Homo sapiens: one gene and its partners. The protein of the gene in region 2 interacts with the protein of the main gene of each other region in a biochemical or structural test. Each region holds a gene or a part of one and is shown on either strand. Other genes may lie near its edges.

Region 1 (7,028 bases), on a different chromosome or scaffold from region 2:
GACTATCAGTGGTGATCTAGCCACTGGAATTATCAGTTTAGCACTCAGTGCCCCTTATAGCAAAACCATAAACTTACTTGCTTTAAACTTTCTATCGAAAGCAAAACTTCACTAAGACTGGACAATTTATAATTCAGGCAAGTTACCATGCTGGGTGGACCATGGCTCACCTCTGCACAATGCTGTGGTAGCCAGGTGCTATGTCATCTGTAACAGGCTGCAGGAAGACATTGGCATACCTGTCCAAAAGGAATAAGGTGCAATTACTGACATTCTCCAGAAGTGCAGGGAGGGAACTTACTCTAAGTAACTAAAGGTAGTAAGAACTAATACCAGCAGTTCCACAGAAGCCTACTCAGACTTTTTTCCAGTCACCAACAATGAAGAGTAGGAGAAAATGAACCTACTGACTGGTAAAGCCCACTCACCTATGATTAGCTGCAGCTCTCCATACAAGCATGATGGCTTTCTTCCAAATTTTCTGTGCCTGAATAGCTTCCTGATCCTCACTACAGACAGAGCTGAAACAGAGATACAGCAATTCCACTAGGCACAAGTTAAAAAATAAAAATTATAATTCTCTTTTCTTTTTGAGACAGGGTCTCACTCTGTCCCCCAGGCTGGAGTGCAGTGGCATGATCATGTTCATTGCACCCTCAACCTCCCAGACTCAATCCTCTCACCTCAGCCTCCCAAGTAGCTGGGACTATAGGTGCATACCACCATGCCCAGCTAATTTTTTAATTTTTTTGTAGAGATAGGGTCTCACTGTGTTGCCCAGGCTGGTCTCGAACTCCTGGGTTCCAGCGATCCTCCTGCCTTAGCCTCCCAAAGTGCTGGGATTACAGGTGTGAGCCACTATGCCCAGCCCTAATTATTTCTTGTCAGCTGTTTATTCCAGGTCAAAAAAGGGAAACACTAAAGAAAAGATCAGGCCAGGCATGGTGGCTCATGCCTCTAATTCTACTGCTTTGGGAGGTCAAGGCAAGAAGACTGCTTGAGGTCAGGAGTTCAAGACCAGACTGGACCACATAGATCCTGTCCCTTAAAAAAATTTTTTTAAAATAAAAATTTAAAAATAAAGAAAAAGGCCAGGCATGGTGTCTCACGCCTGTAATCTCAGCACTTTGGGAGGCCGAGGCAGGTGGAACGCTTGAGCTCAGGAGTTTGAGACCAGCCTGGGCAATGTAGCAAAACTTGGTTTCTACTAAAAAAATTTTTTTTAATTAGCAGGGTGTGGTGGCACAGGCTGGTAGTCCCAGCTACTAAGGAGGCTGAGGTGGAAGGATTGCTTGGGCCTGAGAAGTGGAGGTTGCAGTGAGCTGAGATCGCACCACTGCCCTCCAGCATGGGTGAGTGAGAACAAGAAAAAAGAGAAGGAAAGGAAAGGAAAGGAAAGGGAAAAGAAAAGAAAAGAGAAAAGACAGGAAGGAAGGAAGGAAGGAAAAGATCCTCTCCTCACCTTCACTGCCTTGGCCTCAAAGAAAGAATCTCAGATACTCACAACTGTGAAGAAGCAGGGCTGCTGGGGATGGAGTCTGCCAGTGTGTGTGACTGCAGTGTAGCATTGTGTATGCTGAAGCCATCATCACTCTCGCTCACAGGAGGTTCATTATCCATTTCTGACAAGTAGCCTTCTCCTTGATCCTCTTCCTTAGGCTCCTCTAGGCTGGCCGCTTCACTGACACCATCTTCCTCCTCATCCTCACCTGGGGCATCCTTAGATACAGTATGCTCCAGTTAACAAATGCAAGCAAAGCTATCCAGCAAAGCATCATTAAACATGATCTGTCTTTTGGGTTAGAATTAGTTCTAGAAATGACCTCACGCTGTTTCCTGACTCAGCTGTCTATCACTTATACTACCATCTACTTACAGACACTGCGTTAAGTAATTTAGAACCTGGACAAAGAATAATACCCAGGATCTTTTAAAAAGAAAGAAAAAAAAAAGCTACTTACTTAAGACTAAGCTAAGAGGCGTTCCTTCTTTCCCCTTGCTCGAGAGTAACTCTGACCCTGGGTACAAAGTTATCAAAAATAATTTTTATTTTGTGTCTCATTTGATGGAGCAAGCTCACATCACATTCTTTAAGCCTCTGTTACTGCTGCTTTAATAATTCTAAAAAGAAAACTCTGGATGATTCTCTTTGGATAGTCTAATTAATAAACTTGATTCCTGTATGTTCTCCTTGGCTCAGGTATCCTTATTCACTACAAATCACTCTAAGTGTATCAAGCCTTCTTAAGGACTGTGTGATATTCACATGCTGTTTCATATGGGAGGCACCTGTTGCTATAGTACTCCCATTATGCCTGTCTACTGCAGCTTTTCCCCATGCAACTCCATACCAGTCTCTTATCAGAGAATAAAGATGTGACTTTACTGAAATTCATTAAAAAGTAGTGCTATAGGGAAATCTAATCACATGGCAAGAGGAATAAAGAAAAGTCTGAAATACCTTTATCTGGCTTCCAAAAATAGTCCCTGATTCTTCTTTCAATGAGTCTGCAGAGGAGAGAAAGACTACCTGAAGATTTTTCCACCTTAGCCTTCCCCTTCCTATGGACCATAATCCCCTGCAGCTCTCCTTTACATGCTGACCTGTTCTACCTCCTCTACTTGCCCACAACCCACAACCCCTCAGAAGCCAAAGCAAATGATTTCAAGTCAGTGAAAGAGGACTTTATTTACCTGACATTTCAAACTTGTGCTGAGTCTCTGCCTCTAAAGGATCTTCAATGGGATTTGAGCCATGTGATGGAGACAACATGCTTTCAGGGGATGCCTGAAAACCAGAAAAGAAAAAACACCCTAAGTACTGATAAATCGCTATAGCTCACACAACTTTATTCTTCAGTGATAATGAGACCATAGAAGAAATTCTAAGTCCTACTCATGTAATGTGACTCCAATGGTCACCTTAACAGGAATAAGTATATATAACACTAATCACAGCCTATGGGCTTTGGACACATCAAACATGTCAGAACTCAGGAATGCAACTGGAAAACCAAAAAGCCTAAGCTGTCACTTCTTATCTAAGGTATAAACCTCCATCTCCCCAGCCCCGATCTTTCTTAAGTACCTCTGTCTTCACATTTGTAAGTGGAGTCTCATCGCCTTTCCCAATGGCAACATCTGCTTCAACAATCTCTCCAGCTGCAGTACTTCCCAGTTCCTCATCTAAGTCCTGACTCCTGAGTTCTGGTGGCTCCATACTTGTGGCTGGAACAACTCCAGCTACTATTTCGGCTCCTGAAATGACTGGCTCTGGTTCTGCAGGTTCCACCTTGATCTCTGCACTGGGCTCCCTGATGTCCACCAGTTCATGTATTCCCTTGTTTTCCGTTTCCTCAAAGTCCAGTCTCTCTTGCTTGACCGTCATTTCTGGTGCAGGGAGAGGTACTGGCTTGTCCCGCTCCTGCTGGATAGGATGCTCCCAGGGGCCAGGCAGGGACTGAGGATCATCATTTTCTTCACAAAATGACAGTGCTGCTTCCACTGCTGCCACATCCAGCACTTCAGGATGATCATCTACCTGTCCCACAAAACACAAGACTATTGAGGTCACAGAAAGAAGCCCAAGTCCTTCAATTTTTGTTAGCACCAAATGTGATGGCTTGAATCTGCAGCTTTTCGCTCCATTTTTTCCATGTAGTGGAGGCAAACAATGAAGAGGCACCTGTCCTGTGCAAACCAGTAACATGGGTAGACCTGAGGAGATGACTAGTATGTTAGCACCAAAGGGCTACAAAGATGGAGATGGGCAGAAGTAGGAGAGTTGTTTAAGTAATTCTTACTGTAAGAAGCAAAGCAGCCGAGTATGGTGGCTCATGCCTGTAATCTCAGCACTTTGGGAGGCCGAGGTGGGTGGATCACTTGAGGCCAGGAGTTTGAGACCAGCCTGGCCAACATGGTAAAACTCATCTCTACTAAAAATACAAAAAATTAGTGAGGCGTGGTGGCATGTGCCTGTAGTCCCAGCTACTCAGGAGGCTGAGGCACAAGAATTACTTGAGGCTGGGAGGCAGAGGTAACAGTAAGCCAAGATCGTGCCACTGCACTTCAGCCTGGATGAAAGAGCAAGACTCTGTCTCCAAAAAAAAAAAAAAAAAAGCAGCAGCAGCACCAAAGTGAGGCTGAAAAGAGAAGCCTATGTAGGACCCATGAGATTCTCTGGGGCTTCGCTGAATAGTTACCTTGTCCTCAATGATGGCAATGATGTCTCCAACAGTCTCAAAATCCAGCTCTTCACCTGTGTAAGACACAGCAATATCCATCTTCTCAGCCAGATCTAATTCTTCCTTCCCATCTATGCTGGGAGCCTTTGATCCAACAGGAGCCTCTGCTACCCCTGATCGAAAACACTCTTCTTTGATAGAATTGATGATCATGGATATTTCACTGCTGTCCATGGAAACAGTCACAGTATGTGGATCCCCCACAGCCTCCATGGGAACACAGTTGTCGGGTTGACTCACTGAGTAACAGAAAGAGAAAAGCATCTCAGAAGCTTATTGGGTACAAAGCGACCACCTTGAGATCACATAAGCGCTACAGACAGATGTCAAATATCCAAACACTTAAGGTCAGAAAGAGTCATCAACATGTGCCTATGTTTTCTTCTCCCCAGTTTTATCTAGAAAGGTGAGAACATATTTTCAAGCCTGCTCATATCTGTATACTTAGCCTCTTCCTGCAATACATAAATGCCCACCCACCTCTTCTCACATCTATTTCTAAGGATATTTATTTCTAAGGATAAAGATGGCACATGTCTATGTAGAACAGAGAAGAAGCATCTGAATCGGAGCTGATGCTCTTGGTCATTTTTCTCTAACTAAAGCTCAAAATGAAATTTTAGATCTAGTGGCTGCTCAGGGACGCACCTGGAGCTACACTTTCAGTAGTGGAGACAGCCGGAGCAGAGGATGGTGCTGGCAGCGCAGGCATCATGACAATGGTAGCTTGGGACACAGACTCTACAGGGGGTGGCACAAGTTTAACTGGAGGCTCACTGGCAACAGTAGTGAAGGAAGCAAGAGGTGTGGTGAACTGTGTAGGACCAGCTTCTAAAAGCCGGGAAAGAGTGGGAGCACCTAACATATAAAGAGGTACACAAAATGAAGTAAGAAGAAAGCACATAAATAAGAAGCAATAGCTACTTGAAGACTCAACTAAGAAAATTCTTATGGTCTCAAAGGATGAGAGCAACTCCTGCATTGAATAAGTTCATCATCTATATCCTTACTCTAACCTTACTTAAGATCTTCCTCCAAGTTAGGAATGAACCAAAGCACTAGAACACACAACATATATAAAAAATGGGTGGTAAGGCTAGGTGCAGTGGCTCACGCCTGTAATGCTAGCACTTTGGGAGGCCGAGGCAGGTGGGTCACTTGAGGTCAAGAGTTTGAGACCAGCCTGGGCAACATAGCGAAACCCTGCCTCTACTAAAAATACAAAAAAAAAAAAAAAAAAAAAAAAAAAATTAGCTAGGCGTGGTGGTGGGTGCTGTAATCCCAGCTATTCAGGAGGCTGAGGCAGGAGAACTGCTTGAACGCAGGAGGTGGAGATTGCAGTGAGCCAAGATTGTGCCACCACACTCCAGCTTGGGCGACAGAGCAAGGCTCTGTCTCAAAAAAAACAACAACAACAACAACAAAGGGTGGTAATTTTTCCTCAGAGGAAAATTAATCACCAAGAAACGAAAAACTGGTATGAATAAATCTGTCGCTTCTGCTGAAGTTCAGCATATTGTAAACCACCCAAGTTCAACACCATTCAAATACCAATAAGGTTTGTATGGTATTCTATGGAGCTTTTTTTATTTCCCTGCTTTATACTTTCTACCTCATTAAATTCTCATCACATCCTTGTGAAGTATATATGTTACAATAAAAAAGGAAACTGAGGCTCAAAAGCTAAGTTACCTATCCAAGGTCACAAAACCAATGTGTGGCAGGCCTGAGATTCAAGCCCAATTCTCTGGTTCCAAATCTTATTCCACTATTCTATAATCTTAGGTATCTCTAGCACCTTGATTTTGCAAGCCCTAAGAAAGCAGTTCAATATTACTCTCAATATCCATGCTGTGGTCAATCAGGGCTATCACTATCTTGAAGATAGATGGCTTTATAATATGGAGACTACATTGTTTACCAGGTAAAGTAGCTCCAAAAAAAAGTTAGAAAAAGTTGGGCTTTAAATCTAGCACTGACAACTGCTTAGTAACAGTGAAACTGAGGTCAGTCAATGTCAAGTTCAACACCTTTGAGGTTGATAAAGGAAAAGTGGTAACTTACCTGATGCAGCAGGGGAGGCTGCAACAGTATTGGGTGTTTGCTGTATCTCCCCACCATGTATCATGGGAAGGACCCCGCCTACCTCCAGGAGGACACCTGTACTGTTCAGGTGGCCAGAAGCCACAGCCATTTCACTCTCATTGACCTACCAGGGAAGAATAGAGGTGAAGGCTACACTCAAGCTTTCCTTCACTACCATTTCCCAACAAAGCTCCAGCAGTTGATCAAACTTCATGAAAACTAATAGCTAATATCCACAGAGAATAATTTAAGACCCAAGGGAAACTCTAAACTATAATGTTCAAAACTTATTTGACAAGAGTTCTCTGGAGAAGAGAACCAAAATAATTGTGATTCAGATACCTCAGGACCCATGGGTACTATCAACTTACTGTATTTTTAAAAAATTAACATTTAATTAGGAGATCTTTTCCTCTTTTGAACTTTTATTCCCCATGTCACATTTTAGGTCCCAGGCACTCCCTTCCAAGTACTAAATCACCACAGCTCTCAAACACCCACAGAAGTCTCCATACCAGTCTGGGGCTAGTAGGCAGGAGGCTGCCCTTCTTCAAGAGCTCTGACAGCAGAGGGGAGGGGGGTGGAGTTGCTTTCTGTCCAAGCATCTTTTTCTGGGGTGAATCATCTGTTACTGGGGTCATGGGGGCTTCTAAGGGTGCAGAGCCTGGAGGAAGGGTGTCAGGAATCCCAGGAAACGAG
Region 2 (7,028 bases):
TATCTAATATACCTACAAGTATCATTTTATGACTAAAAATTAAAGCTCAGATCAGCCAAGAGACTTGTCCAGAATATTTTTATTCTTAATTAGGTGATATTTCCATAATGCCACCCATTCCTGCATTCATTCATTCATTCATTATCTTCATCCATTTCTAATCTGGATCATTAAAGAAATAAAATCCCCATCAGTTAGAAAATCACTTAACATTAAATACTGAAATGCTTCACACTAAATAATGAAACTCAACACGACAATGTCAATGCTATTTCAATGTAATCATATAGAAACACGTTCCTGTCAGACAGAGGAGCTATAGGCATGTACATACAATGGCAGAGAAACCCTTGAAGTAATATTCAACTATGAATAGGCTGTGAGATGGTCTTTAAATTAAGCTTCACTTGAAAACATTTTAAAGAGAATCTATCATGTAATCTGCTTTCAAATTAAACTTGAAATTCCCCCAAATGTAGAGCTAGCTTGCTAAAAATATTCATTATTGGAATTAAATTAGAAAAATTTTGCCACATCTCGGAGAAAGTGAAATCTGTTCCCAAAGACATCACAGCAATGTATAACTGCCTCAGCTCCAGCAGGCATCATCTCTCAGTGGACTATTCTAAGAGTCTCTAACTGGGCTCATCACCTCCAGTCTCTCACTCAAGACCTATCCCAAAGAACTCTTTTAAAATAAAAATCTGATTTGCTGAACATTCTTAAGTCTCTTCAAGCTATCAAGACAAAGTCAATCTTCCTTATTGTGCCCAGGAAGGTCCTCGCCATCTGGCTCCTGCCTGCTCCAATGGCCTCATTTATAGTCCTTTGCACATGAGTCAGGCTGGGCTCCTTACAATTTCCCAAATGCTTCATACTTTTACTTTCACTTCATAGGCATATCATATTTATTTCTGCCTAGAACCCTCCCACCCCTATGGGTTCCCACAATGTACATTGTACTTAACTATGTCATTGGACTTACAAATATTTTAATTGTCTGCTAAAGTATTAATGCTACCACTACTATAAATAGCTAATATTTAGAAATACTTGACTGTGACTCAAGCACTATATTATTTCATTTAATCTCCACATATGATAGATGAGGAAACTGAACACATGCAATGAAGCCAGGTGAAACCAGCATACAAATCCACACATTTCCCACTCCACGGCCCCAGTTCCAAACGTCTACACCAGCTGTTCTCAATAGGAGCAGTTTTGCCTCCCAGTAGACACCTGATAATATCTGGAGACATTTTTGATGGTCACAACTGGAGGGTTGGGGGAGCTATTGGCATCTAGTGGGTAGAAGCCAGCAATGCTGCTAAACATCCTGTAATATATACGACAGCCCTCCACAGCAAAGGATTATCTGGCCGCAAATGCCATAGCGTAGAGGAATTACCAGGCTCAAAACTCAAATAGTACCTCTGCTGAGAAACACTACTCTACACTAAATCACCTCCTGTAGATTGCCCCAGAAGATTCCGAGCATCTCATCCATACGACAAGAATTTTTAAATGCTCTACCATGGTGTCTTGGCACTTACCATCGTGTCTGGCACTTGGCAGATGTCCCATGCATTTGTGACCAACGGACAGACTCCAGAAGAAAAAAATTACTTATTATAAGGCTTGATTTTTGTGGCAACTTCAATAAAGATAAATTGAAACACATATTCTTAATCAATGATACATGAATGCATGTGCACCACATTCTAGTGCATGGCTTCACTTTAGCAATACCTTATGTTTATGAACCCATAGAGTGGGAGATAGATTAATAAGCCAGATGCCTAGGATCTTTTTCTCACAAGTCCTCAAGGAGATGAGATGCTTTTCAAATCCCTTATAACTGCTACATTACAGGACAAATGTATAGGTTTATCATCTACATAGGTCATAACTTAACTTGTTTCAAAAAATATTTTCTGTGTAAGGTTCCCTTGGTTCCTTTTTTTTTAAAGAAAAATAACACAAGACTAAACAACCTTATTCTATTCCCTGTTGCAGCTACAATTCAGATATAGGTACTTTATTCTAGATCTCCAGATGTTAGAAGTATAGCAGAAATTGCAGTGAAGCCTAGGTAAAATTTTAAAAGTAAACAGAAATACAGCAGAAATAAACCATTCTCCAGCTTATATAAATTAATACACCTAAACAGCAGAAAGAAAGTCAAGGAAAGATTATGATTATAATGTTTTCAAAGGGACAGAAATTTAGCAGGACTTTTGCATTCTTGCAAAACACTTCAACAACAGGCAGCATTAGCCAGTGTTGTATACAAGTTGCTAGGGGTTTGTGTGTGTGTGTGTGTGAAAAAGCAAAAAGGTTCTGTTGTGGTGCTAGATACTGGTCATTTGTCACTTTTTATGAACTGTATTAAAAGGTTAAAACATATGAGCCTGATTTTTAAAAAGTGTGATATAGTGAACTGTTCCTCACAACCTATTGTGCTGAACTTTTGCCACTTAAGGTTTTAGACACACAAGCACACACACACACACACACACACACAAATAAAATGGTGATCAAATGAATTTTGCTACCTGCTCTCCCCTTTCTTGGACATTTATAATGCATGCTAGTATAAAAATAGGCTCTGGAAACTTTTACAAGTTGTTAAACTCAAGATTTCCCAAACATAATTGAGCCTAGAGTAAAATAAACAAATACAGCAGTAAAAGAAGCAAAAAGTAATAATATAAGAAGAGGATCTGTCAACATATTCAGGAGCAAGTAGAAGGGACTGAAAACAATGACAGGGTTTGTGGCTTGGGACATCAGGGTGACTGTAGCATTTCTCACTGTGATTTAAAAGCTGAGCATGGGAATCACAGCAGAAGCCAGAGACAAGCAGTGCCTTTTCCACTGTATGTGAGAACATGACACACACTTGTCACAGAGACAGATTCTGCAAGTATGGACATGCCAGTTGTTAAGACATTTATGACTATAAGACAGAAATGTGCAAAAAGATGACCAAGCCCAAGAAACATTATGATTGCTATCATCAATCATTATTTTCTGAGCACCTGCTTTGTGTAGACATTGATGAAATCAGAAAAAACAGAATCCCAAGAGAAACAAATGGCAAAGGGAAGAAGTACATCTGAACCATCTTGAGAACCAAGGAACAACATGTCACAAGAGTTACAATACTCAACAGGTTCCTGAATGTCAGGATCATATATTATGCTACTAACACCATGACTATCTTGTCAACATTCCTCATCACAAACATTCCTGAGCCTCCAGGAGTCAAGTAAGTATATTCCCTAATAAAGAAGATATGCCTGCTTTCAGTCTACATTCCTTTGTCCACACTTTTGTTTTAATAAACTTGTCACTCATGACTTTCTTATAAATGCCTAAATTCTTGATCACAGAAGAGAAGCCATGACTCCCTGAAGACCCTCTTTGGGAAGTAGGAAGTTGAATGAGCAATTCAGTCCAGACCAATCCTTTCCTAATTGTGTATGCCTCGTCTGCAGTCCACTCTTAGAACACAGAGACATGTATGTATTGAGGTGTTTGTGCATGTGTGCATATGATATGAAATAAACTATAGATAGTATTTGTTAAAATAGGATTAGGAAAAATAAAAATTGGATAAAACATGCAGATCAGCAAGACAAACGTAAGTTGAGATATGTAAGCCACAAGTTTCTTCACTGTGATGAGTTGGACCATGAATTTGCCTTCTTTTTTTTTTTTTAATCTCTAAATCACGATTGTCTCAGCAGATCTGAGACAGATGTCAATGATTTGCACATTGTCCATTGTTCAGTAATTTTCAAATAACTAGAATAAAATAAGCTATTCAATACAATTCAATATATCTTAACTGCTAAAAGAATATACTTCAAGATCCTTCACTGCCTTAAATGAATGAGTAGTAACTGGAAAAATAGCTTTAATAGACAGAAGGCACTGTCTGACAAATAGCAAACAACTGTTTGCTTTTAGCACATAAAGTGGTAAGATGATATCACAGAGGGTTTTCGTTAAGTTCCTTTAAATTATTTTGCCATAAAAGATTTTTTAAATAAAAAATATTGCTTCTTAGAATAATTTTAAACATATCGATGGATGTTGGTCAATCAATAAAATCAACTGAATGATTTCAGTGGTGGTTCATGCCTGTAATCCCAGAACTTTGGGAGGCTGAGGTGGGCAGATCACGAGGTCAGGAGATCGAGACCATCCTGGCCAACATGGTGAAACCCTGTCCCTACTAAAATTACAAAAATTAGCTGGGTGTGGTGGCATGTGCCTGTAATTACGGCTAAGGCACAAGAATCCCTTGAACCTAGGAGGTGGAGGTTGCAGTGAGCCGAGGTTGCACCACTGTACTCCAGCCTGGCAACAGAGCAAGACTCTGTCGCAAAAAAAAAATAAGAAAAAAAAAAGATTTAAACCACTATACCAATATCATTTAATTTCTGGTAAGCACTGACCAGCAGACAGTACAAGATTATCACAGATTATCTTCTTGCAAAAGCCTCAAATGCAAGTATTCTGGGTTGCTACAGGTAGATCTGCCTTCTGTGCAAATTTAATGTGTCTGAGCAAGGGAGATGAGCCCTGTTATCAAGCACATCTACATCTATCAGAAACACTTTCCAGGGAGTATATCAGATTGTTAGGACTGACTGTCATGATGGAAAAGCTACAATATGGTTCTCAGGACAGTCAAGGTTCCTAGGTCCTAATTCCAGACTCCCCTGATTTGCTATTTGGAAAAGATCCTGAAGTTCACAGCAGAACTCAGTTTCTCAACTCAATAAAAATAGCACTGCACAAGAGCTGACAGTATATAAAGACTTCAAAGTCCTTTGAAATTAGGACAGTAGGGACCAAACAACATTAGCATTGAGCATAGATCACTATTCTAGCTGTCAGTTGGCCAGGTTCCTGAGAGGAAGATATGGAAATATATTACTTGTGACTCAGTGATTTGGATACTCCCCCCCACTTGTTTAAATGCCAAAATTGACTAACAAGTTTGGGAACTTAAATTGGAGAATGAACATTTTAAATCAGAAGCTCACCGGTCTAAATATATTCAACTCCCCTACTACTTGGATACAAGAGATTCTTGAGTGAATCTCACTGGAATTTACATTAATATACATGGGCTATAGAAATCACAAACAATCACCTCCTCAGATATAAAATAACTATTTTTAGGGGCCATATGAGAGACTCCAACAGGTATACTCATCTCATCACAATGGAGACAATTTCAGAATCCTTTTGTATTAATATGTTGTCTCATAGGTCACTGGGCTGCATGCTGAACTGAAAAATGGCTAGCAGAGCCAGGTACATAGTAGATACATAAATATTTGTAGACTGAATGAGGAATCAAATCAAAGAATCAGAATGACTTTAAATAAAACAAGGAGTTAACTTGCCATCCATTGCTCAACCAGCTTTGACACTAGAACAAGCCCTTCAAGCAAAACAGACAGCTGTGATCTGGACATATGATGCAATGCAGGCAGCAAACGTTCACTCTGGACAAATCCAAGTCCAAATATGACACTTAATACCAACCCAGAAGGGAAAGAGAAGCACTGCCTTTTCTACCCTTCCATTCATTCTTCCAACAGTGTTTCACCTGTGCCCATGTACCAAGCTCTTTGCTAGGCTATGGGGAGTCAAAGATGAATAAACCCACACATCGTGCCTCATCACAACTTAGAGGTGGGAACAGAAATGGAAACAAACTGCCCTGCAGGGTGATAAGAGCTATATAGACTAAAGCCCAAAGCATCAGGGGCCACATATTCAGGGGTGTTTATGGCCATAGGGTCATTTTCAAGTACCTCGTTGTCCTGTCCTCTCAAATTGCTCTAATCAAAAGTTGGCTGACACACTAGATATTTGGGAAAATTAGCTTACAGAGTGTGGTAACCACTCATTCCTCTAGGTTTCCTGAGCTTTATTTCTGCATTGGGATTCATCACCAGAATCTCCACTGATAGGCCATAGTAGCTCAGGCCCCCAACAATAAACATACTGGGTTACTTTTCATTATTATGTCTTCTGCAATTTTTTTCCATTCCAGAGTTGGTAACAAGACAAGATCATATAAAGAACCTCACTTCACTTTATGTAGAATTGAAGTTCAAGTATTATCCATGATATAATTTGATATTTCATACGAGTATATACTAGTTGGCAAGCACCATGGCAGGCACTCTACATGTGTCATCCTTACAAGTTTAATGCATGCCACCTCCAGACCCCCTTTTTTTCTGTTAACTTGGCTACTACTAAGAAGCTCAGAGCCAAATTAAATACTCTAAAGCAGTAAGCACTTAGGATTGTAGTTTAATTATCTTCCCTCCTCTACAAGATTTTGATCTTTCTTCCCCTCCCATTTTTAACAGTCTGATTTTGTGAAATTTTTACTATGCATTTACTCAGCACACTTATGAAAGTCAATACTCTAGACACAAAAACAAATCACCATAATCTTCAATTATAATTTCCTTTTGCTCTCAATTGGCAAGAGTTTCCATGAATAACTAATTTGAAGATGACTCCTTTGATATTATGCTCTGGTCACTTGAAAACTCAAATAATGCAATATTTCCCACCATCATTTGGTTCAGAATACTTTTATGAAGCGGCAAAAGAGGGCAAAAAGAGGCTGGCTGACTTAACTAATAACATATGATAACCATCAGGTTATTTTCAAAGCTATCACCAAGACCTATTTATTTCTATCTTGTGTTGGATCCTGACCATTACATTTTGCCCCCTCACCAACCACCACTTTTGCAGCCCAAATTGTACCACCATGCACTGGTTGGTCCACTTAGGGCTGCCATTGCCAGAGGCACTGCCAGGACCTGCTGAGTGAGAAGACACTGCCATCACCCAGTGAAGTCTAGTCCCTGGAATTTCACTCTTAGCACTGGCAATGCTTCTGGAACTCATAAAGATTCTGCTGAAATTCAGGGAGTTGAAGGTCAATGTCTTCCAGGGATCAAGGTAACATGTCA
Region 3 (7,028 bases), on a different chromosome or scaffold from region 2:
TGAACACTTTACAGACATTGCCTCAACTATTCTTCACTAAAAGCCTTCAAAGCATATGCTACTATCGTCCCCATTTCCTAGATAGAAAAAGAAGGCCAAAAGAAATTCTCTGCCAAGCTCCCAGGGCTTTGCCCAAGCAGAACCCCATCCTAGAATTCACAGCCCTCTCAGTCACTGAAGCAAACAATTAGGGCAAATGTTTGTTTTCTTACCTAAAACACCAAACAGTCATCACAGGCCTTTGGGGACAGTTAATCAATGGCTTTATCCCACCATTTGTGAAAGTCTCTCAGGTCTCGTCTCTGGTCTCCTACTCCAGATCTGGGTAGCAATTCGGTCTCTATCCTGAGGAAAGAGCAGGGTGGGAGCCCAAGGGTCCAGATGCCACCAAGAGCCTGTCAACCCTGTGCCCAGGCCAGCTGGGTGACCTCAGGCCAGGCCCCTCCTCTCTGAGCTCTGTGAACCCAGCTGCTGACCCCTTGGCTCCCTCTCCCTCACTGGGTAGTCCTGAGCATCTCATGAGAGAACTCGTGGTCAGCTGCAAGGAGGACCTTTGGGATTTAGGAATGACAAGAGTAGGAAGAAAATGCAGTCTGTCCAGGGGTGGTGGTAGACCTTGCCCCAGGGTCCCACGGCCATCCAAAGCCCAGCCACTCAGGGCAATGGTGTCTCTCAGAGGACTACCCACCCTGGCCCTCCCCAAGAGCTAAGGCCCACCGCACCTCGCAAGACCTGACACTGGAAATGAACTTGCCAGGGAGTCAGGGGCCTGGGCTTCCTCCAGCCAAGCAGCTGGACCTCAGCTTCCTCTCTTCTGGAAATGGCAAGGTGTACCTGTATCTCCAAGGGCCCCCTGCCCCAAGCCTGGAAGGAGAGGGAGCTGCTCACAGTCAAGGTTCAAATCCCAGGTAAGCCGCTCACTAGCTTCAAGACCCTGAGCAACTGACCTAACCTCCCTGCACCTCAGTTTCATCACCTACAAAATGGGGAAAGCCAGTCTCACAGTTATTGGGAGAAATCCATGCAATAGCACTCAGAAGTCTCTTCACAGATACACAACGAAATAGTCACAGATGAAATGACGTCTTGTACATGGAGATGGAATAAGAGTGACTGCAAGTCTTTAACAGTGGACGCTGGGTGATGGAGGGATGGGGATTCACCATACTGTTCTCTCTACTGTCTACTTCTGTATGAGTTGACATTTTCCATAGTCAAATGTTTAAAATACAAAGTTCTTTCAGAGAACCTGACATTGAAACCTATAAAACGCTCTTCTAGGCAACCACACTGCTAGTCCAGGATAAAAATAATTTCTTGTCCTCCCAGAGCTTTCAATCCAGTTGTAGGAATAAAAGCACACTCAGATACCATGGGATAGTAAGTGGCACAAGCCACGTGGGTGGTGGAAGCAGAAGAAGTTAGCTTCAAAGGCTTTCTAGAGGCTGGACGCGGTGGTTCATGCCTGCAATCCCAGCATTTTGGGAGGCCGAGGCGAGCGGATCACGAGGTCAGGAGTTCAAGACCAGCCTGGCCAATATGGTGAAACCCCATCTCTACTAAAAATATAAAAATTAGCCAGGTGTGGTAGCACATGCCTGTAGTCTCAGCTACTTGGGAGGCTGAGGCAGAAGAATCGCTTGAACCCGGGAGGTTGCAGTGAGCCGAGATTGCACCACTGCACTCCAACCTGGGCGACAGAGTGAGACGCCATCTCAAAAAAAAAAAAATGCTTTCCAGAGAGGGCAGGCTTTCAAGAGGGGGCTTAAAGTTCAGGTAGGCTATGAATACATTAAAATGGCAGGGATGGTGGCGGGGAGAGGACATTCCAGTTCATTCCACCAGACTTGTATTCCATCCCTTCTCAGGAACACTCAGACTGAAGATATAAAACAAGAAGCAGTGTCTGCCCTGAAGAGGCTCATAGTCTAGCATATTCATTCACTCAATGAGGATTGATTAAATGTCTGTTATGTTCCAGGCACGGATCTATTCACTGTGGTGAAAACAAAAGGTGGGTGAAATGAACGAAAATCCTTGCCTTTGTGGAGCTTAACGTCCAGGAGTGATTTCCTAATCATTCAATGAGGACTGATTAAATGTCTGTTATATTCCAGGCACTGATCTATTCATTATGGTGAAAAACAAGGTGGATGAAATAAACGAAAATTCTTGCCTTTGTGGAGCTTAACGTCCAGGAGTGATGTCCTAACACTTAATATGATCTATAGATGAAGAGATATATCTATTATTTGGTGCTTATTCTGTGCCAGGCATGTGTTACATGCTTTAAATCCATGTTGTCATTCGATTTTCACTGACTCTTCACAACAATCTTTTTTTTGAGACAGAGTCTCACTCTGTCACCCAAGCTGGAGTGTAGTAGTGTGATCCTGGCTCACTGCAACCTTCACCTCCCCAGTTCAAGTGATTCTCCTGCCTCAGCCTCCCAAGTAGCTGGGAATACAGGCATGCGCCACCATGCCCGGCTAATTTTTGTATTTTTAGTAGAGACGCGGTTTCATCATGTTGGCCAGGCTGGTCTCGAACTCCTGACCTCAGGTGATCCACCCACCTCAGCCTCCCAAAGCGCTGGGATTACAGGCGTAAGCCACTGTGCCCGGCCTCTTCACAACAATCTTAATCATCATATCTTCTCACTTCAGGAAACAGAAGCTCAGAAAGGTTATGTGACCCGCCAAAGGCCTCGAAGCTGGCAAATCGCAGAACCAAGACTCAAACCCAGTAAGGGGATTCCAAGGTCAGTGCTCTGCTGGCCCTGCGTACTGCCACACAGAAGATGGAACAGCTGGCTTGGAGGTGAGGGAGAGGGCATCGCCAAAACAGTGGCTGGTGAGCAGGGGCTCGCAGGATGAATCATGGAAATGGAGAAGGAAGACACAGAAAAGGGCAGCCTGAGTCTAAGCCTCCAGGAGGAAAATTCAGGGTTTTCCTGGGGAGGTACAGGATCCCAAAGTAAAAGCAGACAGCTCAAGACAAAGTCAAGGGCCTAACTCTCCAACTTAAAAGTACCCGAAGGCCTTCGGAAATCAGGTTTAAGTTTAGGCTTTAATTTTAAAATACCGGAGAGCTAAGCTATCAAGCCATGAAAGTCATGGAGGAACCTTAAATTCCTATCAGCAAGTGAAAAAAAAGCCAATCTGAAAACACTACATACTGCGTGATTCCAACTATATGACATTCTGGAAAAGGCAAAACTGTACAAACGGTAAAAAGATCAGTGGTTGTCAGGAGTTGGGGGACAGAAGAAATGAAAAGGTAGAGCAGATTTCCAGGGCAGTGAGACTATTCTGTGTGATGTTACCATGGTAGATACCTGTCATTACAGATTTGTCCAAACCCACGGAGTGAACCCTAATGTAAACTACAGACTCTGGGGTGGCAATGATGTGTCAATGTAGGTTCATCAATTATAACAAATCTACAACTCTGGTGGGGAATATTAATAATGGGGGAGGCTATGCATGTTGGGGGCAAGGGTATATGGCAAATCTCTGTACCTTCCTTTCAATTTTGCTGTGAACCTGAAATTGTTCTAAAAAAATAAAGTCTTAAAAGAAAAAAAAATGTACTGAGGAGCCATGGGAGATGTGTGAGCAAGAGAGTGATGTCAGATATGCACTCTAAGAGGACTGATCTGCCATCTGGGCTAAGGGCAAATGGAAGAAGACAAAGTCGGGTGCAGCAAAGATCTCTTTGGTAGTAACTGCAGGAATCTAGTTACAAACAGACAAAAACCTAGATCAGAAGGGGAGAAGAACAGAAAGATCAATCCAATCGATTCTGCATCAGCTGAGTGTCAATGGGATGGATATGAGGCACTCCGACTACCTTGTAGGAGGACAGATAGAAACTGACCCTGATCATTTTCTTCCAAATGACTTTATTTGGGTACCCTTCACTCTCTAATAAGAATTATGCTTCTCTTTTTTACGCAAAAAAAAAAAAAGATTGCATGCATGAAAATTAGCTCCATACTTAATCCTGTCCTTCTAAAGTGCTTCAAAGAGAGAATTATTCCAACTTTCATGAGTAGCAGGTTAATGCTCATTTTAGATATACTGTATTATTTCACTCCCAATCGAGAGGGCCTATTATCCCCATTTCAAGGATTGAAAAACAGGCGTAGAGAAGCAGAGGGACTTGTTCTGCATTCTTTCTTTTTTGTTTTTTTGGAGATGGAGTCTCACTCTGTTGCCTAGGCTGGAGTGCAGTGGTGCAATCTCAGCTCACTGCAACCTCCGCCTCCTGGGTTCAAGCAATTCTCCGGGTTCAAGCAATTCTCTGGCCTCAGCCTCCTGAGTAGCTGGGATTACAGGCACACACCACCACGCCCGGCTAATTTTTGTATTTTTAGTAGAGACGGGGTTTCACCACGTTGGTCAGGCTGATCTCGAACTCCTGGCCTCGTGATCTGCCCGCCTTGGCCTCCCAAAGTGCTGGTATTACAGGCGTGAGCCGCCGCACCCGGCCTCTGCATTCTCTCTATACAATCTATGTGCCTTCATTTGCTCAAGGTGCTAGAAAAACACTGATGAACAAAAACTGAGAGTAGCCCCTGTCTTCAAGGAGCTTAGAGTCAAATAGTCTGGGAACACTGCCCACTAATGCTGGCTCTTCTACTTACTCAAAGGTAATTAGTCTTCCACAAGTCAGTGAGTTCTCTGAAACTGTAAGATCTGTACAGCTGTGCAACAGCACCTACATTTTGCACAATATCTATGAGAATGAAATGTAGTAGTGCAAACAGAAGGCTCAGAAAACTGCATGGGGTATAGGGGATACTCAGTAAACGTCACTGATGATGACGATGAAGGAGAAGGCAAGGATCAACACTGCAATATTCTTGTTAGGCATTTCCAAGCCTGAGCCCCCTTTGCAAGACTGCTTCTCACTCGAGCCAGTCTTTCTTCTATTATTCCAGAGGAAGAAGGAAGAGGGTGACTCACGTGGCATAGTGGAACTTCTGCCTGGCCTGCACGAGCTGCTAAGAGGAGGGCCCTAAGGTAAAGAGGAAATATGAGCCCGTGGGGCACAGCTGCTGGGCCATTGCCCTTCCTGGGTTTCACAGGCATCCTGATCATTAGCACCAGCCAGGGAATCCCAATGAAAGTGGAGCCCAGGTCTCTGGTGAACATGACCCCTTCTGGCTCAGGTGAAGAAGTTACTCTCCCTAAGTCTCACACAGATAAAGAATGGGCAAATGCACCCAGTGAAGGCTATGCTTCAATCTTCTCCCACACACTATACATTTGTCCAAATCTACAAACTGATTTGAAAAAGAAGTTGGCCCTGGCTTCAAGGGGTGTGTGGAGCCATTTTCCCAGTTCTCCATGTGGCAGGGGGCCCTTCTGGGTGCTCAGTCCCAGCTTTAGAACAACGAGGAGACAAGATACCAATTGCAAAATGGGCCAAGTTCAGAAACACAGAACCACAAGTCACCCATGATCATATGGGGAAGAAGTTTAGCATCACAAGTAATCAAATAAATGCACATTAAAACAATAAGGGTAACAGAATTTATTGACGAACAGACTGGTAAAAATGAAAAACAATGAAAATATCAACAGTTATCTGGGTATAGGAAACCAGGTGTTCCCAGACCATGCCAGTGCACAAATAAGTACAATCTTTCTAGAAGAGAATCCAGGAATGAGTTTGATGGAGTAATTTCACTTCTAGGAACTTAAAGGAAGAAACAAAGACATACATAAAAAGATATTCGTTTTAGCATTGCTTACAATAGCAAAATAAAAAAATTAAACAACGTAAATGAGTAACGATAAAGGATTAATTAAATACATCTCGGTTCAATCTTCAACAAAACATTATATAATCATTAAGATACTAAGTAGAATATTTACTGATGTGGAAAGATGTTCACAGCATATTGTTTGGAAGAGGAAAAAAAAAAACAAGTTACAGAACAGTGCAATTCCAAGTTACAAATCAGTATATTCAGGATAACTCCTTTTTTTTTTTTTTTTTTTTTTTTGAGAATGAGTTTCGCTCTTTTGTCCAGGCTAGAGTGAAGTGGCGCGATCTCGGCTCACTGCAACCTCCGCCTCCCGGGTTCAAGCGATTCTCCTGCCTCAGCCTCCCAAGTAGCTGGGATTACAGGTGTGTGTCACCACGCCCAGCTAATTTTTGTATTTTTAGTAGAGACAGGATTTCACCATGTTGGCCAGGCTGGTCCGGAACTCCTGACCTCAGGTGATTCACCCGCCTCGGCCTCCCAAAGTGCTAGGATTACAGGGGTGAGCCACCGTGCCCGGCGACTCCATTTTTTAAAAATAAGATGTGATCTATATGAACAGGAAATAAACAGTCTGGAATATACATGACAATTAAGTGGTTATCTTTGGGTCATGTTACATATTTCTCATTTTTTTCTTTATGCTTGGCAGTATTTTCTAACAATTCTATAATTAAATATTTTTAAATAAGTTGTTAGAACTGATGATTTCTAACATTCCCGCTGCCAACTCTGACATTTTGTGCATCTATGACTGATGCCCTAAGCAACTTCAAATAGCCCATATTTAGTGTGGACTTGCTGTGTGGCCTTTGGGGTCTAAAATTTTGCCCACAGCTGCAGCCCTCTGCATTCCTCTCTCCCACACTCGCTGCCCAGCTGTCTCCCCTGCTAGCCTGGGAGCTTCTGCTTGGCAGGACCCAGCTGCACCCCTGTCTGTAATCCATGTGCCTAGCCAAGAGCTAAGCAAAGGAACACAGCTCAGCATACTGACAGGTGCCTTGCAGGCACAATGATAAAAGGTACAACCCTAGTGCTAGAATCTTACTGGACACCAGACTCACACAAAGTGCTTGGTTGTATCACACAGATGCAGAAAACCAAAGGAGAGAAAGCAGGGCAAGCTGGGCTGGGAGAGCCTAGTAGAGGAGAAGGCCATGCAGGACGGGTGAGTGAGGGTACTCTGGGCCAGGGGCATAGCCTGAACAAAGGTGAAGCCACCCACAGTCCTTTGGGATCCATGCCTCAAAGC
Region 4 (7,028 bases), on a different chromosome or scaffold from region 2:
TTATGCTTGTTAGCTTCCTTCATGGTATATATCATAGATTGTCATCATATATTAATATGTTTGTCTATAGACTGTCTCTCATATTATATTCTACCAATATGAGTGCAGCATCCATATACCATAGACCTAGCATGGTCTTAGATAACTAAGATCAAATAAATACAAAAGTTCAAGGGCAAATAATAACGATAATAATTAGGATTCTCAAAAGCATAAAGGTATGTTTTTAAAACTCTCAGGTATTAATAAAAATCAATACCCAAAATTCTATGTATCCGTAGAAATTTGGTTTACCTTTCTGCAGCCCGAATAACATTATTATATCCTTACAAAAATTTAAAAGTCTTTTGGACACGTGAGAGTGGGTCAAAATATTACATTGACATTTTGTTATTGTTGCTGTTGAGACAGGGCCCGGCTCTGTCATCCAGACTGGAGTGTAGGTGTACAATCTTGGCTCACTGCAATCTCCACCTCCTGGGCTCAAGCTATCCTTCTACCTCAGCTTCTCAAGTAGCTGAGACCACAGATGCACGCCACCAAACCCGGCTAATTTTTGTATTTTTTATAGAGGCAAAGTTTTGCTATGTTGTCCAGGCTGGTCACACACTGACTTTTAATAAATTAAAAGTTAACTTCTAAAGAGAATAAACCCAAAGAAAAGGATGAATTCTTGCTTTCAGGGTTTTAAGAGGAAAAATCTACCTTTATTACCTCCCTGCACCACAAGAAAAGCACATTTGACCTGGATAAGAACATATTCAATATTAAGTCATTACACAAAAATTTACCAAGTGTCTGTTTTAAGTTAAGCACCAGGCTCATCAGGAAAAAAGGGTCAGTAAGCTGTAGCCTCTGGGCCTAATCTGGCCCACTCTGTTTCTGTGCATTCTTATATTTTAATTGATTTTTAAAAATCAAAAGAGTAACAGTAGCCTCTGTAGTGGCTCCTCAGTCTTCTTTGCCAACTCATACTTTTGAATCAACTTTCAAATGTTGGGAGTTTACCAAAGCTTAGAAAGAATCCTTCTCTTCCTATTCTGTACTCTTTTGTTAGATGCTTTCTTCTCAATGCATAACTTCAATTAAATTATCACTTACGCATGAACAATTTCAATATTTCTATCTGTGGCTTCTTTGAAATTTAGGCTTATACATCCAAATTCCCTTTTAACATTTTCATTCAGAATCTCAAACGTTCCTAAAATTCAACATGGCCAGCAGATCTCTGCCCATCCTAATCCCCCCAAGTTCCATCTTCTGCAGGGTTTTCTTTGCTAAATAGCATCTCATCTACCTTAGGTGCCTTAAGTCAGAATAGATAAATCCTCCTTTCTTATTCCTTATATTCAGTGATCACAAAATCCTGTTGATATTGTCTCCTAAATTTCCTTTCATCTGTTCAATTCTCTCCAAATCAACTGTTACCACTCTACTCCAAGCAAACATCATCTCTGGCTTAGAATACTACAATAGCTTCATGACTGATTTTTTTCTCCAATCATATCTTCTACCTTTCAATTTACTCAGCACACTAAAACTGATCTTTCCCTGCTTAAAACATTGCAGTGGCCTTCCATTATTCTTAGAGTCGTAGGAAGAAAACCATTGCTTCTGATGCAATGTTAAGCCAAAGGAACAGAGGATTTTAAGAAAATTGGGCAATTATACTAAAAGTTTCTGAGATGCCAAATAGGATAAGGATTAAAAATGTACACTGAAAACAGTGCTGTGAAGATCACTGATGGCTTTAATAAGAGCAGTGTGGTAGGGGAAAGAAGTTGCTGAGGAGTGGGTATGAAGCAAGTAGACAACTCTTTTTAAACTTTGACTGTCAAGGGGAAGAGAACGACTGGCAGGAAGCTACAGGAATAAATGGAATCAAAGAAGGGATCTTTCCTTTTTCTTTGTTTAAGGTTAGATTAACCAGAACATATGTAAATACTCAAGTGAGCCAGTTCAGGGAAGAAACTGGTAATAAAGGAACAAAAGGGATACACAATGAGAAGGAGGCAGGAAATGGAAACCAGAGAGACAGGTGGAGGGACTCAACCTTAAAGAGAGCTGGAGACCTATCTCCTTCCATTGCAACACTGGAGGAGAGATTATGTGCATTTTCAGGTAAGCATACAACTTTGGGGTTAGGAGGCTGAGGTAATTCTCATTTAATGGGTTTTATTTTCTTTATGAAAAATCACATGACATCATCTGCTAAAAGTAAGAGCAAAAATATGGAAAGATTTGAGGATAATCAAAGATTGGAACAGTCTTCGTGAAGGAGTAAACTGACCACAGAAGATATTAGAGTTGCCAGGATGTGTTGATGGCATGGGGAGACAGGTAGTGGTTATGAATTTATAGTGGTACTAATCTGTACTCGAGATTTTTCTTGTCACACCAAGCACAGATAAAGAGAAAGCATACTGAGTTCATCCAGGGTTGGGGTGGCATCAGGAAGGTGCAACAAAAAAATCAAAGAAGAGCAAAAGAATTTAAGGTATTGATAAGAGTTATTAAAATGAAACAGAGTCTAAACTGGATAGGAAGAAAATGAGAGAATAAAAGGCTAAAGTATAGGGATAAAATAAAGGGATTATTGGTCTGTAGGGCCAGATAAAGTTAACAGTTACAGTAGGAACAGTTAAACAACTCAGCTAGAAATACAGGAACTGGCATTTAGAAAACAGGATGCGTGAAACAGTTTCGTAGATGCAGCAATTTCATCTAATAATAAGTACTACAAAAGTAGATAGGTGCAACAGAACAGAGAATAAGATCACTGGGGGAAAAGATCTCTGTAATAAAGATGAGGTGACAAAGAGATTATCCATACGGATATTGAAATCACATGAGGGAAGATGGTGAGCTAGATGGTGAACTAAGCGCCAAGTTCAGTGACAGGAAGTTGGTAGATGGTGTTAACAAGCTGCAATTAAGTGATATGCCAGAAAGTTATCTTGAAGCCTACTTTCTTCTGCAGTCTATTTTCTTTCCTATTATTCTACTAAAACTTCATTCTCAAAGATTACCAAATATGTTCTCACAGTTAAATTTGTCTTTATCTTCATTCCCTAGGTACCTCTCTGTTGCAACTAATTATCCCTCCATATTGATCCTCTTACCTATCATAGTTTCCACTGTGTACAACCTCTGTTTCTCTTGACTTTCCTAATGCTCCCTTACTCATTTTCTGCATTCTAAGCATTCTCCTTTAACTATCCCACATTTCTTGACCCTGTTTTTCTCCTTCAAGACATTCTTCCTTAAAGACTGCAACAATTCGCCAGGTGCGGTGGCTCACGCCTGTAATCCCAGCACTTTGGGAGGCCGAGGCAGGTGGATCACGAGGTCAGGAGATCGAGACCATCCTGGCTAACACAGTGAAACCCCATCTCTACTAAAAATACAAAAAAAAAAAAAAAAAAAAAATTAGCCGGGCGTGGTAGCAAGCGCCTGTAGTCCCAGCTACTCAGGAGGCTGAGGTAGGACAATGGAGTGAGGAGGCGGCGGAGCTTGCAGTGAGCTGAGATCGCGCCACTGCACTCCAGCCTGGGCGACAAAGCAAGACTCAGTCTCAAAAAAAAAAAAAAAAAAAAAAGACTGCAACAATTCTCACGGCTTCAACTATTTTCAACTATCTTCTTTGGAATAATGACTCCCATAGTTATATCCTTTTATTCCTGTCCCCTACTGGAATTGACATCAGTTCCATATTTGTGATGTCTTACCAAACATTTTAATCCCATCACTTTAAATCTACGAAGTTAAAATTACTCTCTATTGAAAAGTAGTAGTCTATCCTACCATTCAATCATATGGCAGCGCCAATATTTTCCACATCATATAGGTTTCAAATCACCTAGTCATTGCTGATTTGTCTTTATCATCATTCTTATTTACTTTAAATTCATCCACAGAACCTTGCATATGTCCTTACAAAAGGCAAACATTTAATAAATGCATACTGAATCATCAAGTCTATACGGTTTTCTTTTTAACCCATTTCATCCATCTTTTCTTTCTTCATCATTGTGACTTCCACCATCTACATGAGATCCTCATCAGATGTGTCTAGCACTCATCATTCTCATCCCTACAGTATTTTGCTGATGTTGTTTTTCTGATTGCAGCCACTATTGACTATTATGTATCTCTGGCAGACTAAAATTGTTTTCATCCTGTTATCTCTTGTTCAAAGTTTTAGTATTCATCATTGCCAATTCAGCTGGACGCGAAAATCATCTACAATCTAGCTCCAACCAATCTCTACAACAATACCACCCACAACTTCTCAATGTGAAATCTCTGCTCTTACCAGAGAGATCTCTTTGCTATTCTGGAATATGCCATGTATATTACATTATTTACTCAAAGTATTATTATTTTTCTTCTCCAACAATATAAAATTAGTTTCCAATTCTATCTTTTCCATAAAATATCTGCCAGTCACTCCAGCTTAATTTCTTCCAACTTGGAATCCCGAATGTACTCCCATTGGTGCTATTAATGTTGGAAATTATATAATGCTTTCTTTATTGACTTTAATCTATTAGCTAATTTTTTAAAATGAGTATTGTTTCATTCAATAAGACTGAAACTCCTTAAGGTGAGAGGCTTTATAATTTATTTTGCAAATATCCTTCCAATACCAAGCATAGTATTTTATATGATGTCTATATTTCTGCTTTATAAAAAAAACTATACTGTGTGAGCTATTTTCCAATCTGATCACTAAATTTTTCCCTCTCTTTTCCTCTATTTCACCTCCAAAAAATAAAAAAAAGGAAGAAAAATTAAGCTTCTTCCATGTCAGTGTATCAGTGAGAGTCACATAATCTACCACAGACCATAAATTCCTGCAGGGTAGATTATCCTATTCATATCTATATACTCCGCATCTAATTCAGAAACTGGAAATTGCACACAATAATGTTAGCTGAATTGAATCCTACAAGGTATAATTTTTTTAAAAATCCATGATTTCTTGGCAACAAAATGTAATGAGTTCTAAAAATTAATCTGCAGAATGCTAAGAAGTAATAACTCAGGATGAAATTCGTACTCCTTCTATCAATATACAGTTTTTCATATCTAGAAGGAGCCTTCCATTGAAGAGATTAAATAATTAAAGTCCTACAAAGATTCTGTTTTCTGAAAGATCATATTCTGCGGGCTAATGTCAGAACTAAAACTAGAACCAGATTCTGCATCCCATTTTCTAGTCTGGTCACCTAATTACTTTAAAGTAATTACTTTAAACCAGCTGGTGTTCAAACTGAGAAACTACATTTGAAAAATAATACAGTTTAACAGTTTAAAAGAGAAAAGAGGAACATATTAGAAAGATTACAGGCTACTAATTCTGGTTCTTATAATTACAAGTTGACTAGAAAATGTACTTATCCTCTTTGAATCTGTTTCTTCATTTGTTAAATAGGGGAAAATAAAGCTTACTAGGAGAAGTAAATGAAATAACTGCCTGGGAGCATAACAGTTATCATCTTCCATTAAAATATGCAATTGGTCTCTGAGAATAAGGTAAGATAAGGTCTTTTAAAAATGTAATGAGAAATATGGCCGGGTGCAGTGGCTCATGCTTGTAATCCCAGCACCTTGGGAGGCTGAGGTGGGCGGATCATGAGGTCAAGAGATCGAGACCATCCTGGCCAACATGGTGAAACCCCGTCTCTACTAAAAATACAAAAATTAGCCGGGCGTGGTGGCACACGCCTGTAGTCCCAGCTACTTGGGAGGCTGAGGCAGGAGAATCACTTGAACCCAGGAGGTCGAGGTTGCAGCGAGCCACTGCACTCCACCTGGCGACAGAGCGAGACTCCATCTCAAAAAAAAAAAAAAAAAAAAAAGAATGAGAAATTTAATAAAAAGGCACATTAAACATATTGGTAATGTTATATAACTTCTGACATTTTTTACTATTCTAATATTGATATGAGGCATTCATATATTAGAAATAGACTAATAAAAATGTTGAAGGCTGATGAACATTTTATAGATATTTTTGCAAAATATATTTTTTTCAACTGCTAGGAAATCCTTTTCTTACTATCTATGACATAACATTATATACATATAGAACATAATATATCTAAGTACATAACATAGTTATCTATCCAATAATATGTACCATGTATTGCGTACATGATAGATATACCAGTTGTTACTAACTCTAATCCTAATAAACAGTCAAGAAAGTTATGAACTGCCATTCCCATTTTATACTTGAGAAAATGGAGATTTGGAAACATTTAATAACTTACTTAGAATTACACACTCCCCTTGAGAAAGCTTATCTACTTTCTATATTTACTTTAGCATAACCCCATTATAACAGGGTCCAAAAAATTCAAATGTATAAACTAAGAGATTAATGACAGATTTCATTTAGACTCTATAGTATGTGTGTCTGTCTCTCCCTCACACACACACAGACACACTCAAATCACAAAATAAAACACTGTACACAACAAAATGCATACTGAACTGACAATGAAGCATCATCATTCCAGTCAAACCAAACCCCCTGCTGAGAACACTTAAGTTTAGCTCCCCATTTGAATACAAATGGTTATGGGAAGATAGCTGCCAATGGCCAATCACATGATGTCTTAATTCTTATTATTGTAGGATATATAATCACAGGCTTTCATTATAGTACCTCTAAGGTGATGCTTCCCAAATCTCTAGTCTCAGCTCTGACTCAGCCTGAGTTTCATATTCAAATATCTGACTGCTTTCTTGATGTGTTCCTCATCTCAGTTAATTTACCAATATCCACCCAGAAAACTGGCATCATAATTGATCCCCCTTTCTTCCTGCCAATTCATTAACGAAGTCGGTCTATTTTCCCTTCTATATTTCTTTGAATCCAACCCCTACTGTACTGTACCAGCTAGTTCAGGCCCTCAGAATTTCTGAAAAGACAACTGAAATAGGATCCTTATATGTAGATCACTCACCCTCAAATCCAGACTGCCAACGTTATCTAAAATGTACACCTGTGTCAGTCT

The links.
Region 1: the proteins of THRB (region 2) and BRD8 form a complex in vitro, tested with the Homo sapiens proteins (one study listed by BioGRID).
Region 3: the proteins of THRB (region 2) and PPARGC1B form a complex in vitro, tested with the Homo sapiens proteins (one study listed by BioGRID).
Region 4: the proteins of THRB (region 2) and LRIF1 form a complex in vitro, tested with the Homo sapiens proteins (one study listed by BioGRID).

What each region holds. Positions count from the first base shown.
Region 1 is NC_000005.10:138,161,626-138,168,653, forward strand, and holds part of BRD8 (bromodomain-containing protein 8), read right to left. Parts: coding exon of another isoform or gene 6,845-7,028; intron 6,454-6,844; coding exon 6,309-6,453; intron 5,103-6,308; coding exon 4,893-5,102; intron 4,484-4,892; coding exon 4,203-4,483; intron 3,542-4,202; coding exon 3,089-3,541; intron 2,789-3,088; coding exon 2,695-2,788; intron 2,509-2,694; coding exon 2,462-2,508; intron 1,720-2,461; coding exon 1,505-1,719; intron 522-1,504; coding exon 429-521; intron 240-428; coding exon 171-239; intron 1-170. UniProt on the Homo sapiens protein: May act as a coactivator during transcriptional activation by hormone-activated nuclear receptors (NR). Isoform 2 stimulates transcriptional activation by AR/DHTR, ESR1/NR3A1, RXRA/NR2B1 and THRB/ERBA2.
Region 2 is NC_000003.12:24,484,844-24,491,871, forward strand, and holds part of THRB (thyroid hormone receptor beta), read right to left. Parts: intron 1-7,028.
Region 3 is NC_000005.10:149,733,310-149,740,337, reverse strand, and holds part of PPARGC1B (peroxisome proliferator-activated receptor gamma coactivator 1-beta), read right to left. Parts: intron 1-7,028. UniProt on the Homo sapiens protein: Plays a role of stimulator of transcription factors and nuclear receptors activities. Activates transcriptional activity of estrogen receptor alpha, nuclear respiratory factor 1 (NRF1) and glucocorticoid receptor in the presence of glucocorticoids.
Region 4 is NC_000001.11:110,953,895-110,960,922, forward strand, and holds part of LRIF1 (ligand-dependent nuclear receptor-interacting factor 1), read right to left. Parts: intron 1-7,028. UniProt on the Homo sapiens protein: Together with SMCHD1, involved in chromosome X inactivation in females by promoting the compaction of heterochromatin.